Regions from separate parts of the Homo sapiens genome. Here regions 2, 3 and 4 are each reported to be linked to region 1. The links are microRNA targets in miRTarBase. Many come from high-throughput screens and were not tested one by one. Region 1 holds a microRNA gene; each other region holds the end of a gene's coding sequence.

Region 1 (4,168 bases):
AAATATAGTACCTGATAGGTAATTTTTCAACTCTTGTCCTCTTTCCTACCTCCCCACTTTTGAAATTCCCAATGTTTATTGTTCCCATCTTCATGTCTGTGTGTACCCAATGTTTAGCTCTCACTTACAAGTGAGACCATGCATTATTTGGTTTTATGTTTGTGATAATTTTCTTAGGATAATGGCCTCCAGCTGCATCCACGTTGCTGCAAAGGACATGATTTTGTTCTTTTTTATGGCTATGTAGCATTCCATGGGCGTATATGTACCACATTTTCTTTGTCTAATCCACCATTGATGGGCACTTGGATTGATGCCATGTCTTTGCTGTTGTGAATAGTACCCGATAAATATACAAATGCAGGTGTCATTTTGGTAGAATGATTTATTTTCCTTTGGGTATACACCCAGTAATGGGATTGTCGGGTTGAACGGTAATTCTATGTTGAGTTCTTTGAGAAATCTCCGAACCACTTTCTACAGGGGCTGAACTAATTTGCATTCCCACCAACAGCGTATAAACCTTCCCTTTTCTCCTCAACCTTGCCAATGTCTGTTATTTCCTGACTCTAATAAAAGAGAACAGTTGTAAAACACTGTAACAAATCTACTTTCTGTGCTTCTCACGATTCAAATCTGACTTCAGTTTAACCATTTGAATATTTGGCCTTAAATACAAATTGATGACATAGTGATGGATTGTGTTTTATGACATTTATTTTATATGGGCTAACAATTCTGCATGTAATTTCATTGTTGTAGGGTTATGAGAGAATTTACAATGAAATTCCGGACATTAATCTGGATGTCCCACATTCATACTCTGTGCTGGAGCGGTTTGTAGAAGAATGTTTTCAGGCTGGAATAATTTCCAAACAACTCAGAGATCTTTGTCCTTCAAGGTACTTTATTTAAATACTACTTTCTCAATGTAAAATAGTGGATGAGATCTTTGGGAAGGTTAACTGCTAAGTTAGTTTATCGTTCCCTGAAGTCACTGAAGAACGTGACTCTTGTGAGTTCATGGAGAAAGAAGGGCGAAGCTTGTTTTAGCCCCCTTGTAAATCTGTACAGGACTGCCTCATGAAGTCCTAGTTTATTTGAAAGAAACTAATCTTGTGGAGCAGGTCCTTTGTTGTAAGTAGTTTCAGTGTTTAGAGTAGGTATTATCAGTGATAAGATGAGAAAATTGAGGCTTAGGGAGGTATAATGTACTTTTTCTAAGGTCACATGGCTAGTACATGGTAGAAGCCAAGTATGAATTCAGGACTTTTCTGGCTTCAAAGATCTAGGCTCTTACCTGTACTGGATGTGGCTTCCTTGACTTCTTTACAGGTTGGAGAATTAGGGCTAATTGGATGTTCTCACTAGAAAGTGTGTGTGTTGGGGGGTGTGTGGAGGATGTTCTCACTGGAAAGTGTATGTGTGTGGGTGATTTTCCTTGGAGCTATTAATATTTTTGCTACTAGTTGGTAAGTTTTTTTGTTGTTGTTAAAGCTAATAATGAAGCTTATAATGTAATAATATAAATGTTTAGTAATAGCTAAACTTTTTGCTTGTGTGGGTCAGTTTTATATAATCTTAAGTTCTTATAATTTTTTATCTGGAAAATTTCTTAAGCTTTGATATTTTTAAGTGCATTGTAAGAATTAAAAGTCAGAAAAATATTTCCTGGTAGGGGCCTTTGCTTTAGAATTTTAGAAGCCATTAAAAGAGAGGGAAAAGAAAGTGATGAAAGATAGTTTAATAGCTTTACTAGAAATGTTTGGAAATACAGACGTTAGCTTGGTGATGGCAGGATTTATGTATGGATGTGCCAAGTGATATACATCAGTAAAAACTCTGAACTTTGGCCTTCTTATTATTGACTGCTTTTTCATTCCCTACCTTGGTCTCATACAGTCTGAAGCCTTTATGTTCAAGATGATGTAGCTGTTTTCCACTTAGACTTAATATGAAAAGGGGCCAGTACCCTGGCATTGGCTTTTTGAAAGTTTTTCAGCCTCTGTTTGAAAGTCTGATTGTTTCTGTGTGGCTTTATTCTCAAGGGTCACATGAGGCAATAAACTTTCTGTGTATACATACCATACAGCTTTGACTTGGGTCCTTCATCTTTTAGCCTATTTGGGTAAGGTGCACATTTGTGTGTGGTTTTGCATGCTTGTGCCTATTGGCCTGGGGTCAGAGAGTAAGGGCTAATGTTGCCTAAGTTCTATTTCCCACTTACTGCTTTAGGCCACTGGCCAGCTGTTCCTTCTGGGCTATTGCCACTACATGTAGGTAAGAGTGTGGTTACATTATAGAGCAGGGCTTCTTGAGTTTGACAAAGCACGAATCCCAAAATGGGGCATAGGCTGTAATTCTGATTTTTTTCCACATTCAAGTTATGGCTTTTCTACAGTTGATAAAACATTTTTTTTTAAATTGCCAAACATGGATATTTTGATAGGTTGCACAGCTCCAGTTTGCATAATTCTGAATTATGTTAGTGTTTCCTATTTGGCTTACTGTTAAGCTTACAAATAATAATTAGAAATTAATTAGAAATAATTTTAAATTTCTAAATAAAATGTTTTAGTTTGAGTCAACTTTTTTTAATGTGACTCTGTTTGGATAGTGAACTTATTAAAACAAAAACTCAGATTTGATATTGATGTTTTATGCTAAGATATATAGTAGGGAGTCTTTTCCAAAGGAATTAGAGGCATGCTTTTTTTTTTTAATGGAAAACCCTTTAAAAGCTAACACGTAACGAAAAAATACCAAGTTTTTAATTTTTTTATATATTGACTATAGTCAGAATTTGTATCTGTTTTCATGTCTTTTTTTTTCTTCATTACAGGGGCAGAAAGCGTTTTGTAAGCGAAGGAGATGGAGGTCGTCTTAAACCAGAGAGCTACTGAATATAAGAACTCTTGCAGTCTTAGATGTTATAAAAATATATATCTGAATTGTAAGAGTTGTTAGCACAAGTTTTTTTTTTTTTTTTTTTTAAGCACTTGTTTTGGGTACAAGGCATTTCTGACATTTTATAAACCTACATTTAAGGGGAATTTTTAAAGGAAATGTTTTTTCTTTTTTTTTTGTTTTTCGAGGGGGCAAGGAGGGACAGAAAAGTAACCTCTTCTTAAGTGGAATATTCTAATAAGCTACCTTTTGTAAGTGCCATGTTTATTATCTAATCATTCCAAGTTTTGCATTGATGTCTGACTGCCACTCCTTTCTTTCAAGGACAGTGTTTTTTGTAGTAAAATCACTGGTTTATACAAAGCTTTATTTAGGGGGTAAAGTTAAGCTGCTAAAACCCCATGTTGGCTGCTGCTGTTGAGATACTGTGCTTTGGGAGTAAAAAAAGAAAGTTATTTCTTTGTCTTAAAGAATTTTTAAAAAATTAGTCATGAGACTTATTCATCTTTCCAGGGAACATACTGATTGGTCTTAAAAGACTAGACAGTTAAGTAAAAGGTGGCTGGAACATCTATTTTTCTACAAAACTGGAAAAATGAACCTGGTTCTAGAAGAATGTACACCAAAATAAAACATGTGAAGCAGTATTGATTCTTTATTGGGAGTACATTTTTTTAGGTCTCTTAAACTTTAATTTCACACAGTAAATTTTGAATCTCATAAGGAAGCATATTTGAACCTAGTCAATTTAATCTTAGTGTTCCCTTGAAAACTTTTTTTCCCTACAAAATTTTAAGTGAAAAATACAATAGTAAATTAAGATTACACTGGGGAAAAAAATGCAGGTATCACTTTACTCCATTGTTATCTGACCTAGAGCTTAATTAAGTTTTAGAAATATGTAATACCTTCCATCATTCCATCATCCTTAAATTCTGTTACCAAATAATGGCTAATGTTACAAAAAGTTATACTCCAGAGACCCAAAGCTTGACATTTACCTAATGTATGAGAAAATATTACCAATTAACAATAAAGAATGATCATATTTTTAACCTCTTTTACATAGCCTAATAACTCAGCAAGGCCTCAACGTCTGTGCTAATTTAAACTGCCAAATATTGACTGCAGCAAACAAGAATTATATTCAGAATTTATGAGGGTACTGTTAGGAGTATACTGCTTACAGGTTTAGATATAGTCTGTTAGAATTAAAACCAAGTTTAGTGTTCATATTTACCTCATGGGCTTTATCAAGCCC
Region 2 (4,168 bases), not on the chromosome of region 1:
TCACAATTTTAAAATTCTGACTTTCGGCTTCCTTTGAAAAACTGAAAGATCTGTAAGAGTTGGCCTATACACTTGTTGTAAGAACGAAGAGTCAAGTAATGGATGCTCTTTTTTGGTGGGGCATATTACATCTAAAGTTGTTTTCAGAGCTTGCCCTCATTTCAAAATTAATTGGTTGTATGAATTATTTTTAATGTGTATTAAGTGTTTTCATCTCTCCTCAAATATTTTTAAGTATTTTTAAAGTGTCTTTTTTTTTTCTTAAGGACCTAGATGACATAGAAGATGAAAATGAACAGCTAAAGCAGGAAAATAAAACTCTTTTGAAAGTTGTGGGTCAGCTGACCAGGTAGAGGATTCAAGACTCAATGTGGAAAAAATATTTTAAACTACTGATTGAATGTTAATGGTCAATGCTAGCACAATATTCCTATGCTGCAATACATTAAAATAACTAAGCAAGTATATTTATTTCTAGCAAACAGATGTTTGTTTTCAAAATACTTCTTTTTCATTATTGGTTTTAAAAAAGCATTATCCTTTTATCTCACAAATAAGTAATATCTTTCAGTTATTAAATGATAGATAATGCCTTTTTGGTTTTGTGTGGTATTCAACTAATACATGGTTTAAAGTCACAGCCGTTTGAATATATTTTATCTTGGTAGTACATTTTCTCCCTTAGGAATATACATAGTCTTTGTTTACATGAGTTCAAATACTTTTGGGATGTTACCTTCACATGTCCTATTACTGATGTGTGCAACCTTTTATGTGTTGATGACTCACTCATAAAGGTTTTTGTCTACTGTCATTTGTTCTTTCCACTTATTCTAAGCATTTAGAGTAATAGAGTCATACTTTTTTATAACAGCAACCTTTTAAAAGGAAAGCTCTTATAAAGTCACTGTCATGTTTTAGTTGACTAAATATAAATTTAAGAGAATACTTGAATTGTGCTATAGTAAATAAAAATTTACTATTTTGTGTTTGAATATTGAAAAATTGAATCACTTTAACTCCTGAAAAACATACAATTGTAATTTCAATGTAAAATTTCTTATGTAGGTACTACCTTTTTTTATCGTTCCAAGGTTTGCTAGTGAACACAGGATATTTTAAAAGTTTTTTATTCTTCGGGCCTGGAAAGTGTACAAAGTCAGTGTAGGAGAAAAAAATCCATATTTTTATATTAGCATGCACACTAAAAACCAAAATATTATTCATACTTAAAACATTCATACAAAACAATATGTAAGCAGAAATAGTACTAAAATACTTTGCCTAATTTCTAAGTTGAAGAATAACACTGGGACACAGTTTTTTCATATGAGAGAATATTCCGCTATTTCAAATTTAAGGGATTTTCTTCCTAACATTGAAATTTTAAAAACAGAGTTACTTCTAAATAATTATACAGATTTTTTCTTCTATTAAATATTATTATTTAGAATTGTTTTTGTATTACATATTCATGTTAAGAACCCCGTCTTCCCTTAAAATACATTAAAATTATGACATTTTTGCTTTGTGATTGAATTTCAAATAGCAGTATGGTATCCTTTTATCTAGTTAATATATGAAAGTGGCTTGAATATAGTCAAATCCATTTTAGGTACTCTACTGACTTTTTCCTTCACTTGCCAAGCCCTTTTATTGTTCACTGTTAGAAAAATAGAGAAGGTGAGACAGCTGGGGGAAAATGTGGAGTAAATGATAATCAAATGTTGAATTCTAAAAGTCTCTACATTTACCTAGGTTGGCTTTCTCCCCCAGTTCAGAAGTTTCCAGCTTGGCCAATCATCAGAATCACTTGAGGAACTTAGAAAGAACTCCCTGGCTGTAGCTCCTATGTAGGTTTAGGTTGAGACTCTGGATTCCACAATTTTTAAAGGTTACCATCTGAGGTTTCTGATCATAGTCTACTTTTGAAGCAGCTGCTGCTGTTTCTTTATTCCATTGAACACCCTGGAATTGACATAATTTTATCTATCAGCATTTCTCCCCTTTTAGTTTATTTAATAATTAACCCGGTCTCCAGGGCAGTTTTCATATGACCATGTGTATATTCACTGCTCACGAAAAAGTTTAATGTTAGATTACCAAATTTAATATAGTTACAGAATTACTGCATAAGGGCTTCCCTTCTTGGAGACTCTTACCCAGCATGGGAACAGTGATCTGCCCACATGACAGGGTGGTATGCCAGGCATAGTTAACTGCTTTTGGTTGTGAGGTACTCATCTTCCTTTAGTTACCCTTAGTTATGTGGCACACATGTCCTTATTGCCTAGTTCGTCATCCACACTTTGGATCTTGTGAAAATGCTGTTAGTATCCAACCTTAAAATATATTAGTATATGGGTTTTTATTAAAAGAATTACTTTGAATTTTCTATTTAATTCATATGTAAATAAAGGAACATTTCATTTCACTTAAAAAAATTATATCAGTTATTAGGCTGGGTGCAGTGGCTCATGCCTGTAATCCCAGCACTTTGGGAGGCCAAGGCGGGTGGATTACCAGAGTTCGGGAGTTTGAGACCAGCTTGACCAACATGGAGAAACCCCGTCTCTACTAAAAATACAAAATTAGCCAGGTGTGGTGGCGCATGCCTGTAATCCTGGCTACTCAGGAGGCTGAGGCAGGAGAATCGCTTGAAAACCCAGGAGACAGAGGTTGCGGTGAGCTGAGATTGCGCCATTGTACTCCAGCCTGGGCAAGAAGAGCGAAACTCTGTCTCCAAAAAAAAAAAAAAAAAAATTATTAATACTTTTAAAGACTGAGCTGTTTAAGAATTTTTTGGGGAACATTTCTAGCAGTGATTTTTTTGGCCTTTAATGATAGCGTAAAGACAGGAGCCTTACAACTTAGGCAAAGCATTTCACATGCAGTCCTTCTTCCATCTCAAAATATGTACTTATTTTACATACAGAATTTTACACTAACCATTGAAAAATAAAGTAGGATCTGCTACAGTTTCACCTGAAAATTTATAAAAAGTGTTGAGATTGGTAGAAGGTAGTTTTTAAGTACATGTGCACTACCCTAAAAGACTTGTCTATTGTCAATAAAGTGTTAGTATTTGTGAAATTATTATTCCTGTTCAGAAATACTATTTCTTAAATCTCCTGGGAATTTGTGGCATAATAAAGCACATTCAAAGTTCTAATGTATTTATGAGCTCATTTTCAAAATAGTAAGTTTGTCATCTTTAAAATGAACATGACTTGCCTCCTTGATTTCTGAAATGAATTAATTGAAGATTGCTATAGTAATCTTTATTTCATCTTTCTAGAGTTGTTGACAATTTTATTATACAACAGTTACCATTAGAGAAGGAGGGAAGGGCTTTTGGGTGTGTATTTATAGGTACTAAGGGATTTACTAAATATAGTAGATTAGCACTGTCACACTTGTTCAAGTAGTTTCAAACATAGAAAATTAAGTATCAGGTATGTGGAGCAATGTAGTTTTTTTTTTTCTTCAGTTTAAAAAATTTTTAATTGTGGTAGAAGCAATGTATTCTTAAGGTGAAAAACCTACCTCGGTTACATGTGGTTTGTGTTTTTTGGATTAATCTGGATTTTATAATTAGAAATAAAAATGTAAGATTTTGAATCCACTTAATTTCTTGAAAATAGTACAAGTCAGTGTAATAGAGAAGCATTCATATATTCAACACTGTAAGACAAAACAGCAGAGACCTTGGATTTGATAATTGATCTGATATCCTGGACAGTATTCATATGTACAGTGATAGGTATCTTTCTTTGGAGTTTTTTTTTTGTGCATATGTGTATAGTTTTATGGGTTCTGAGTTGGTGACCAGTAAGTTGCATGTAGTGCTGGCACTTACTTAATAACTATTCATGATATTGTTAATAACTTGTTATAGGATTGTATTCCCAATTACAGTCTCTAAGATTGTAATTGATATTATCTGAGAGGTAGTGTGACAACTTTCTTTTGTTGTTACATTAAGCCGAAAACATAATACTAATAGACAACTAACAGTTTGCTTATCAGGCACATCAACTAAGGCACCTCCCCCCATGCTAAGTTTCTCCTGGATATATGGAAGTTGATTGTTTCCCAGTTTAAAAACTTGAACTAATATCTCCTAAGAAAATCTGAGTCCATATTGTTTTTATTTTACTTAGCTAGA
Region 3 (4,168 bases), not on the chromosome of region 1:
CAGTTTATAGACAAGGAAACTGAGAGAAACAAACTCACCCAAGAGATAAGTAGGAGAACTGGAATTTGAACCTGCACAGCCAGATTTCCGAGACTGTGTGCTTCATCTCTGCCATGTATGTAGTTCAGGCGTTTACGGGGTCTAATACAGGCCAGGCATTCTGCTTGGTGTTTGCTGTTCTTGTGCAAGTCAAGCACGCTCCTGCCTCAGGACCTTTGCATTCGCTGTTCCTTGTACTTTTCAGCTCTTCCCCTGGGTATCTGCAGGGCTCTCTTCCTCACCTCCTTCAGGTGTCTGCTCAAATGTCACTTTATCAGGAGGCCTCTTCTGTCCACCCTGCATAAAATAGTGTCACTTCCCCTTTGCTCTGGCAACTTCCTTCCCCCTCCTCCTGCGTTGTGAAGGCCCTCAGCACTCAGTATAGTGGGGCCTGTTACTCACCTAGGGTTACTTGCTCATTGTCTGTCTTCTCTCGGGAGGAGGTAAGCTCTGAGAGAGCAGACTTCTGTTTCTTTCTCAGCACACTGATTAGGGCCTGGCACAGAGTCAGCTTTCAACCACGTTTCAGGATTCAATGAGGGTGGCTACAATAGTGGACCATTAGGTTCCTGTCCCCAGGGAGCTCAAATTCTAGTGGGGACAACTAACAACCATCAAGGAAGCAGATACACAAACACACACGCACACACAGACACGCACACATGCACACACGCACACACACGCACACACACGTGCACACGCAGGCACACAGATGCACACATGCATGCACACACACCCACATAGGTGCACACACACATGCATGTGCGCTCACACACACACACCACACACATGTTTTCAGGTAGCAGTAAGTACTATGAAGAAAACTTAAGTGGCAAGCAGGAATGAGAGTGATGGAGGTGCTTTTTTGGATAGAGTGGTCCAGAGAGGCCTTTAAAGGTAAGAGTTAAGCAGAGACTTGAATGAATCAGGGAGCTTTGTGTGGTCAAAGTCCAGAGGGGTGCTGGAGAAGAGTCAGCTTACAGGATCTGGGGAGATGAGGTCAGAGGGGGTGGCAGGGACCAGCTCATGCAGGGCCCTACAGGGCTAGGGGGCTTGCAAGGGCAGGTGGGACCCACCTCCAGTTAGTGGAGAACCACCTCCATGCTTTCCTGCTGTTTCAGCTTCCCGTGGCCGCTGTAACAGATCACTGCAAACCTGATAATTTAAAACAACAGAAATTTATTTTCTCATATTTCTGAAGTCCCGAAGTCTGAAATCAAGGTATTGGCAGGGCCACACTTCCTCCGGAGGCTCCAGGGGGAGAATTTCTTCCTTGATTCTTCCAGCTTCTGGTGGCTGCTGGCATTCCTTAACCTGTGGTCACATAGCTCCAAACTCTGCCTCTGTGGTCACATTGCTTTCTCTTCTACATCGAAGATCCATCCGTGTCTCTCTTGTAAGGATACTTAACATCTCTTTTAGGGCTCACTTAGATAATCCAGGGTAAACCCCCACCCCCATCTCAAGATTCTTAATTTAATCACACCTGTATAGTCTTGTTTTCTTTTTTCTTTTTATTTTTACTTTTGCCATACAAGGTAACAGTCAAAGGTTCCAGAGATTAGGACATGGATATCTTTGGGGTGGGGGTTAGTATTCAGCCTACCTTCCCTACCCTCTCTAATGTCTGGTAATTCAATAATTTATTCCATTCTCAGACTAAATTACTGTTGTCGCTGGCTTAGTTCAAGCTGTTTTTCTGTTTGTGGTAATGAAAAACATCTAGACTCATCTACTCGCCGCTATAGTGAGTGCTAATAAATGTTTGCCTGGAAAGAGAACAGGGAATTTACATGTATCGAGTGCATGCAGTGCACACAGCACATAGTAGGCCCTCAGTAAATGCAGAATTGAATTGGTTCTTTTTTTTTTTTTGAGACGGAGTTTTGCTCTTGTTGCCCAGGCTGGAGTGCAATGGCGCGATCTCAGCTCACTGCAGCCTCTGCCTCCCAGTTCAAGCGGTTCTCCTGCCCCATCCTCCCAAGTAGCTGGGATTACAGGTGCACACCACCACGCCTGGCTAATTTTTTGTATTTTTAGTAGAGACGAGGTTTCACCATGTTAGCCAGGCTGGTCTCAAACTCCTGAACTCAGGTGATCCACCCACCTCGGCCTCCCAAAGTGCTGGGATTACATGCATAAGCCACCGTGCCTGGTCTTGAATTGGTTCTTACACAATGCAGAGAAGTCCACATTAGTATCCTGGATGTTCCGTGATGGGAAGGGACTCTGATTAGTCACTGAGGGTGCACAGGGAGGAGGCAGAGGCCTCAGGGTTAAAGGCAGGTGTGTCTGACTCCTGGGCATGCACACTCTTCCCCATGTCAGGGCTTCTCAGTCCACTAGATGGTGGTAGCACCCCCCCAGGTTGTGCCAACCAAAAACATCTCTAGACATTGCCAAAAGTCCAGTGGGGGCAAAATCACTCATCTTGGGAACTACTGCCCCACATCATGCTGCCCCAGGGGAGGTGATAGTGGGAAGAAGTGCTGGCTAGCTAGCTGGGCATTGAACTCAGGTGTCCCACAGGGCAGGTGAGAGGCTGTCTGTATGCTGCTGTGGTGGAGATAACTGGTTATCCCCTGATATCTGCCATCTGGTTTCTCTAGTGAAAACTTGCAGCTGGGCGCATTGCTGCCAGAAATAAAGACTACATCTCCCAGTGTTTCTTGCAGCTAGGTGTGACCATGTGACCACATTCCAGCCAAGTAGAGATAAGTGAGGTGGCCAAGTTCCTGACTGTGCACTTAAAGGGGAGGGTCCTGCTCCCCTTTCCTGCCCTCTTTTCCAGTCTGGCTGCCTAGAAGGTGGACCTGGTAGCAATGAGATCAGTGAATCCTGGGTCTCAATACCAGGGAGTCTCTGTATTGCTTGGCCTGCTGATGGTCAACTTTCTGGTTGATTTCCACTGGTTTAAGCCACTGTTATTTAAGAGCTTTGTTATAGTTGCTGAACCTGCATTCTAATATTATACCTGCCCAAGCCAGCCATGAGGGGGATGGAAGGAAGGCAGGAAGGAGTGGGGAGAAAGGTGTAGATGGAGGGGCACAGATGGTCTGGCTGGTTGAGTTCAGAGATTCTTACAGACATCTCCTGGGAAGAAGACTCTGAGTTGGATGTTGGAGGCCAAGAAGGATGTAGCGAGGTGGGGAAAGGGGCAGGGCGCACCAGAAAGGGCTGCAGCAGGGGCAAGGGTGTTGAGGAGAGACTGAGCCAGGGACTGAAAAGCAAGGAGGTCTTGAACAGGCCAAAAAGAGAAAGGGAGACATTTTAGAGGGAAGCCCGGTGCAAAGAAGGGAATTTCACTAGGTGGACCAAAACCAGATGTAGGGATCTAGGAGTTTGTCATGAGGCCTGGGGGCACCTAGAGGCTGGGACTGGAGGTAGGGAAATGGTTGAGGAGCCCTGGCTCCTCTCCAACTCAGAGGGTCCTCACTCTGGGGCTGACCCCTCACTCTTGACCCTTGCTCCATGCTAAGGTGTTCATGGCTCCTGCTGGGCCTGTGGTCTTGACATCTTCTTGCCCAGGGCTCCTCCGAGAGGTAGCCAGGGCCAGTAGGAGTGCAGCCAAGGTAATTGCCTTCAGCCCCAGGACCACAGGTGCGAACACAACCAGGAGGCCTGGGAGGCACAGGAGAGAGCTCAGGCGGGACCCGTGGTGAGGGCCCCACAGCCCACGCCTCATTGCTGCCCATGGGCAAGGTCACATCCTGCTGCTGTATAACCTCTGGAGCTGTATCCTTTCTACATTGAAAGAGGAGATCAAAGACCACCCTTCCCTCTGCCCTGGGCCCAGAGAACGGTTGCCCAATATTCTGCCTGCATCTGTAATCATCTCAGTCACATCCCTAACCTCTGCTATTCCTAATTGCCTAATGCAATCCTCAAGGTAATCCTACAGTGTAGGATAGTGATCCAATTTTTATAGATAAGGAGACAGACCCAGAGTGGGGAAATGATTTTCTCAGGGCCACATGTGTTAAAGAAGTCACGGGACCCAGGCCGTCTGGCCCCCATGAATGGCAGGAGCAGGGCCGAGCATCAGGAAGGCAAATCTGACCACATCTATCACAAGCTCCCACCAGATACTGAGAGTCCTTGAATGTTAACATGAGATGTGCTAGGCACA
Region 4 (4,168 bases), not on the chromosome of region 1:
TCTGTCTTCAATCTTCAACATTCTTTGTAGTACAGTATTGTCACTATCTATATTTTTTCCACATAATACTGGCTTCTTTCCACCAGCATTTGAATGGCAAATCCCTTAAAATTTAAAATTTAAAACAAATTTAAAATTTAAAAAATCCTCCCCTTTCTGTGATCCACCCGCTCGTCGCCTCTTGAGTTGCCTCCATTCTGCCTCCCCTTCTTCAACCTGTTCTAATCTAGCCTTTAGCCTTACTGATTTAGAGAAACTGCTCTTCACCAAAGTCACCCATGACCTTTTACTAATCCCAACAAACATTTTTGTCTTTGTCTTTTGGAAGCCTGTAACTTGGCTGCCCACTCTCTTCATGCACCCCCTCTTTTACCTTGAGGTTTGTGACATCTTCTAGCCAAGTTCCCTTCTTACCTCTCTGGCCCTTCCCAGTTTCAAGGTTTCTAGTGACTCTCTGCCCTAGGGATTTGCTTCCTTCCCACTCTACAGAGTCAGCCTAAGTTTTTTCAGCCACTTGTGTGGCTTCCTTTTCTTGATATATATGTAGATGGCTTGCAGATCTTTAGCTTACAGCTCTCTGCTGAGCTTCACACCCATATTTTTAGGTCTTATAGTTTATCTCACTTGGATAGCTTGCAAGCTACCTTAGATATGTACAATCTGAACTATACCCTTTACATACACACTGACATACACAAGCTGTTTTTATTTCTGTTTCCTCTCAGAGAATCATCTGTCTACCCAGTTGCTCAAAACAAATCGTTTTCTGACACTTTCTCTTCCCTTACATCACCTCTCCCCCAATTCCCCCACCCCCAACAACTAAATACCATTATTTTAATTCAGGCCATCGTGAACTCAAATGTACTATTCTGATAGCCTCCTAAATGGTCTGTCTGCTGCAAGTTACATCACCTTACAACCCCAAAGTGATCTTTCTAGAGTGATCCTGCTGCTCCTGCTTAAATTACTTTGAAGGTCTTCACTTTGTCATTAGGATAAAGTCCAAACTCTTCCTTGGCTAAGCCTCACTCTACTTGCTTCTCCAACTTTATCTTTTACGACTTTGTCTCTCCTTGATAGTTCCAGTCAAGTTTAAGTTCTTTAGTTTACTGAAAGGGTGATGTGTGCCCTCTCCACTCTGAGCCTTCATGCTTATTTTCTCTTCTGCTGGCATATTTACCAATACTGCCAAGTACCTGGCAAATGTTTACAATTTTTCAGGTCTCATCTTCAATGTAACTTCCTCTGGAAAATCTTTACTGACTACACCTTGCCCCCCCAGCTAGACCAGGTCAGATATCCCTGCTGTGTGCTTACTGTAGCATTTCATGGCATTTCTGAAACTTTCCTGTAATTGTAGAGATGGCAGGGACTTTGCTTGTACTGTTCACTGTTGTCTCTCCAGTATAGCGCCTAGTGTTTGGCACCTAGAAAATGTGCAGTCAGTATTTGTTAAATGAGAAGATACTACTTCCAATGGCATATTCTTTGAGCACCTAATTATTTAGAAGTTTCTTGTGTTAAGTGGAACTTTGTAACTTCTTTTTTTTTGGAGTCTAGCTCTGTCTTCCAGGCTGGAGTGCAATGGTGCGATCTCAGCTCACTGCAACCTCTGCCTCCCGGGTTCAAGCAATTCTCCTGCCTCAGCCTCCCAAGTAGCTGGGATTACAGGTGCCTGCCATCACGCCCAGCTAATTTTTTGTATTTTCAGTAGAGACGGGGTTTCACCATGTTGGCCAGGCTGGTCTCAAACTCCTGACCTCAAGTGATCCACCCGCCTCGGCCACCCAAAGTGCTGGTATTACAGGCGTGAGCCACCGCACCCAGCCTGTCACTTCTATTTAATGATTCTGGTTCTATACCCTAAGGAACACAAAGAACAAATCATTAGACAGCCTTCAAATGAATAAAGGAATGTGCTCTGTGCTTCTATTTCACATAGGGCATGGTGCCTAGAATTGAACAAGCGCCTAGGTGTGGCCTGACCTCAGAGTAGAGTGGAACCATCACTATGCTCATTTGACAGCCTATCCTAGTAATAAGGTAGATTGACATCATATCTGCTTTCATTCCACTAGTGATTCATAATGGCAAACTCCCTAAGTTCTTTTTCTAACATGTGTTGTTTCCAAGAATGATCTCCTGCATATGCATTTGTTTTTTGGACACAAGTCTAGGAGCTTACATTTCTTCTTGTTAAACTCATCCAAGTTGATGATGTTAAACTCATCCAAGTTGATGATGTTAAACTCATCCAAGTTGATGTTGAAGCAACATGCCAGTTGGCTAACATGGGGGGGATTTTAGTTCTGTCACTGTATTTGTTTTTCTACCTACTTCATGACATCTAATTTATAAATAAATCTTACTAGCCATATAATCAGAGACAAGGAACTTAAGCCTGTTTCTTCATGTGTAAATGGGGCTGATAACAGGATCAGGGTTGCTGTGAAGAATACATGTGCATATGTTCCCAGAAAACATAGTGCAGTTCTTGGGACACGATATGTACTCAATATATGTTAGCTATTATTATTCATATAATTGATAACAAAGTTGAATAGGGCAGGTAGAGGCAGATGCCTTTGTGACATCACTCAAAATCATTCTTCTAGGTTTAGACATATTCATTAATAATGGTTTCATGTCGCCCATTTCTATTTATTTTGCCCACAAAAACATTTTAGAGAACTTTGAAATGCCTTTCTCAAGTATAATATGATGTTTCTTAGATTTATTGCCTAGTACTCCTCAACCCTCAAAAAAAAAGAGAAAATTTTGTTTTCCTGATTTGTTCTTAGTGAGCTACCCAAACAACTTTTTGCCAAGACTTTTTGAATACTACCCTTATTTCTTTTTAAGACCTAAAAATACATAATAAATAAATAAATCTACCTACTAAGATTATACGAAGTGATTTATTGATACTGGTTAACATCCATTATATACAGGTAGAAACTTTCAAAATTGTACAAAGAACCATTAAGCATATTGATAAAGACAGTTTTACAGACAAAACAACTGGAAAATAGTTTTAACATACACAATATATAATTATGAAAAAAATGTAGAACACATATTGTTCTACCAGATAAATCCCAAGGTTATTAAAAGTCTGCTATGCAGACCTTAAGTTGAAAAATGTGTTCAATGGAGTTACATGGTTTTAGAAAATTAAGTATAATGTAAAAATTAAGCTTTTTTTTCTCATTGCAATTGGGAGAGGAACTGAGACAACTTTTTACCCCAAATCTATACAGTTTGAAAAATAATTTATATGTCTAGCATAAAGAAAATTGAGAATGTTTATGGTTCTGTAAACTTTGCCTTTTATGAAATGCAAACCACATCAGTTTTAAAAATTAGAAACTGTGCAATCAGAAACAGATTGTTCCCTTTATGGTACAATTGTACCTTAATTGGCTTTATACCTGAGCACCAAAGCTGAAGTTCTAAATGCCATCTCTTCCTGGAAAGTTATTCTGAAAATGAGCAAGAAATCAAAACTAGCCTATTATCATCTAGAAAATTAGGCACCAAGAAGGAGATTATCTCCTTGGAAATGCAACATCAATGACAGAGAAGTTTCAATTAATTAAGCAGCTGACAGATCTCCTTGTGAACACAACAAAGGAAATCCACATAAGAAGAGCCTCCGTAAAGTCCTTTGTCTTCTACCAGGAACTGTCGGAAAACCATTTCTGGTTGTTCTCGCTGCTTTACAATTGTGAGCTAGGAAAAAAAAAACAAAACAGTAACAGCCCCTGGTTATAAACATTATTTGAAAATGGGTCAATTTTGTCTATTTCAATTTTGGCAAACATTATTGAATGCCCATTATGTGTGAGGCTATGGAGGATGATGGGAAAGTGCCTGATATCTAGAGTGGAAAGAGGCATGGACCCCGAAACCCCAAAACCTAAGACATACAATTTTAAGTGGCAAAAATGAAACCTAAGCAGAGTGTTACGGGAAAGGCTTCACAGTGATAGTAACTGTCCCCTGAGCCTTAAAGGATAGGGGTAGGGCTAGAAAGTGTTCCATACTGGAATACATGTGCCATGTACCAGAGATACAATTATGGCTGGCATGTAAATTATCACAGGCTTCTTCTAAAAGGGACAAATTATCATCATAATGAGTTTGGGTTTCTGTAGGAAATGTG

The links. The annotated mature microRNA hsa-miR-4680-5p reads AGAACUCUUGCAGUCUUAGAUGU and lies in region 1 at 2,909-2,931, shown strand. An mRNA with a match to its seed (bases 2 to 7 or 8) in the 3' UTR can be bound and repressed. Matches are read on the target gene's strand: a 7mer-m8 pairs with bases 2 to 8, a 7mer-A1 pairs with bases 2 to 7 and ends in A, and an 8mer does both.
Region 2: the mRNA of PAWR is a reported target of hsa-miR-4680-5p. Seed matches in the 3' UTR shown: 7mer-A1 at 711-717 and 7mer-m8 at 2,525-2,531.
Region 3: the mRNA of SIRPB2 is a reported target of hsa-miR-4680-5p. Seed matches in the 3' UTR shown: 7mer-A1 at 2,549-2,555 and 7mer-A1 at 2,125-2,131.
Region 4: the mRNA of SEC24D is a reported target of hsa-miR-4680-5p. The part of its 3' UTR that is shown has no 7-base or 8-base seed match.

Annotation. Positions count from the first base shown.
Region 1 is chr10:110,895,186-110,899,353 of GRCh38, forward strand. MIR4680 (microRNA 4680) reads left to right here and starts at 2,905; the gene lies at 2,905-2,970. It overlaps PDCD4 (programmed cell death 4), which reads left to right. Exons shown (of 12, transcript NM_014456.5): 11 at 763-902; 12 at 2,843-4,168. The coding sequence ends at 2,903. BBIP1 (BBSome interacting protein 1) reads right to left here. Exons shown (of 4, transcript NM_001195305.3): 4 at 3,545-4,168.
Region 2 is chr12:79,588,792-79,592,959 of GRCh38, reverse strand. PAWR (pro-apoptotic WT1 regulator) reads left to right here. Exons shown (of 7, transcript NM_002583.4): 7 at 267-4,168. The coding sequence ends at 353. Among named protein-coding and RNA genes, the nearest start is that of PPP1R12A-AS2, 99 kb to the left of the region's middle.
Region 3 is chr20:1,472,677-1,476,844 of GRCh38, forward strand. It overlaps SIRPB2 (signal regulatory protein beta 2), which reads right to left. Exons shown (of 5, transcript NM_001122962.2): 5 at 1,902-3,660. The coding sequence ends at 3,491. Among named protein-coding and RNA genes, the nearest start is that of NSFL1C, 7.9 kb to the left of the region's middle.
Region 4 is chr4:118,719,921-118,724,088 of GRCh38, forward strand. SEC24D (SEC24 homolog D, COPII component) reads right to left here. Exons shown (of 23, transcript NM_014822.4): 23 at 2,903-3,735. The coding sequence ends at 3,595. Among named protein-coding and RNA genes, the nearest start is that of METTL14, 37 kb to the left of the region's middle.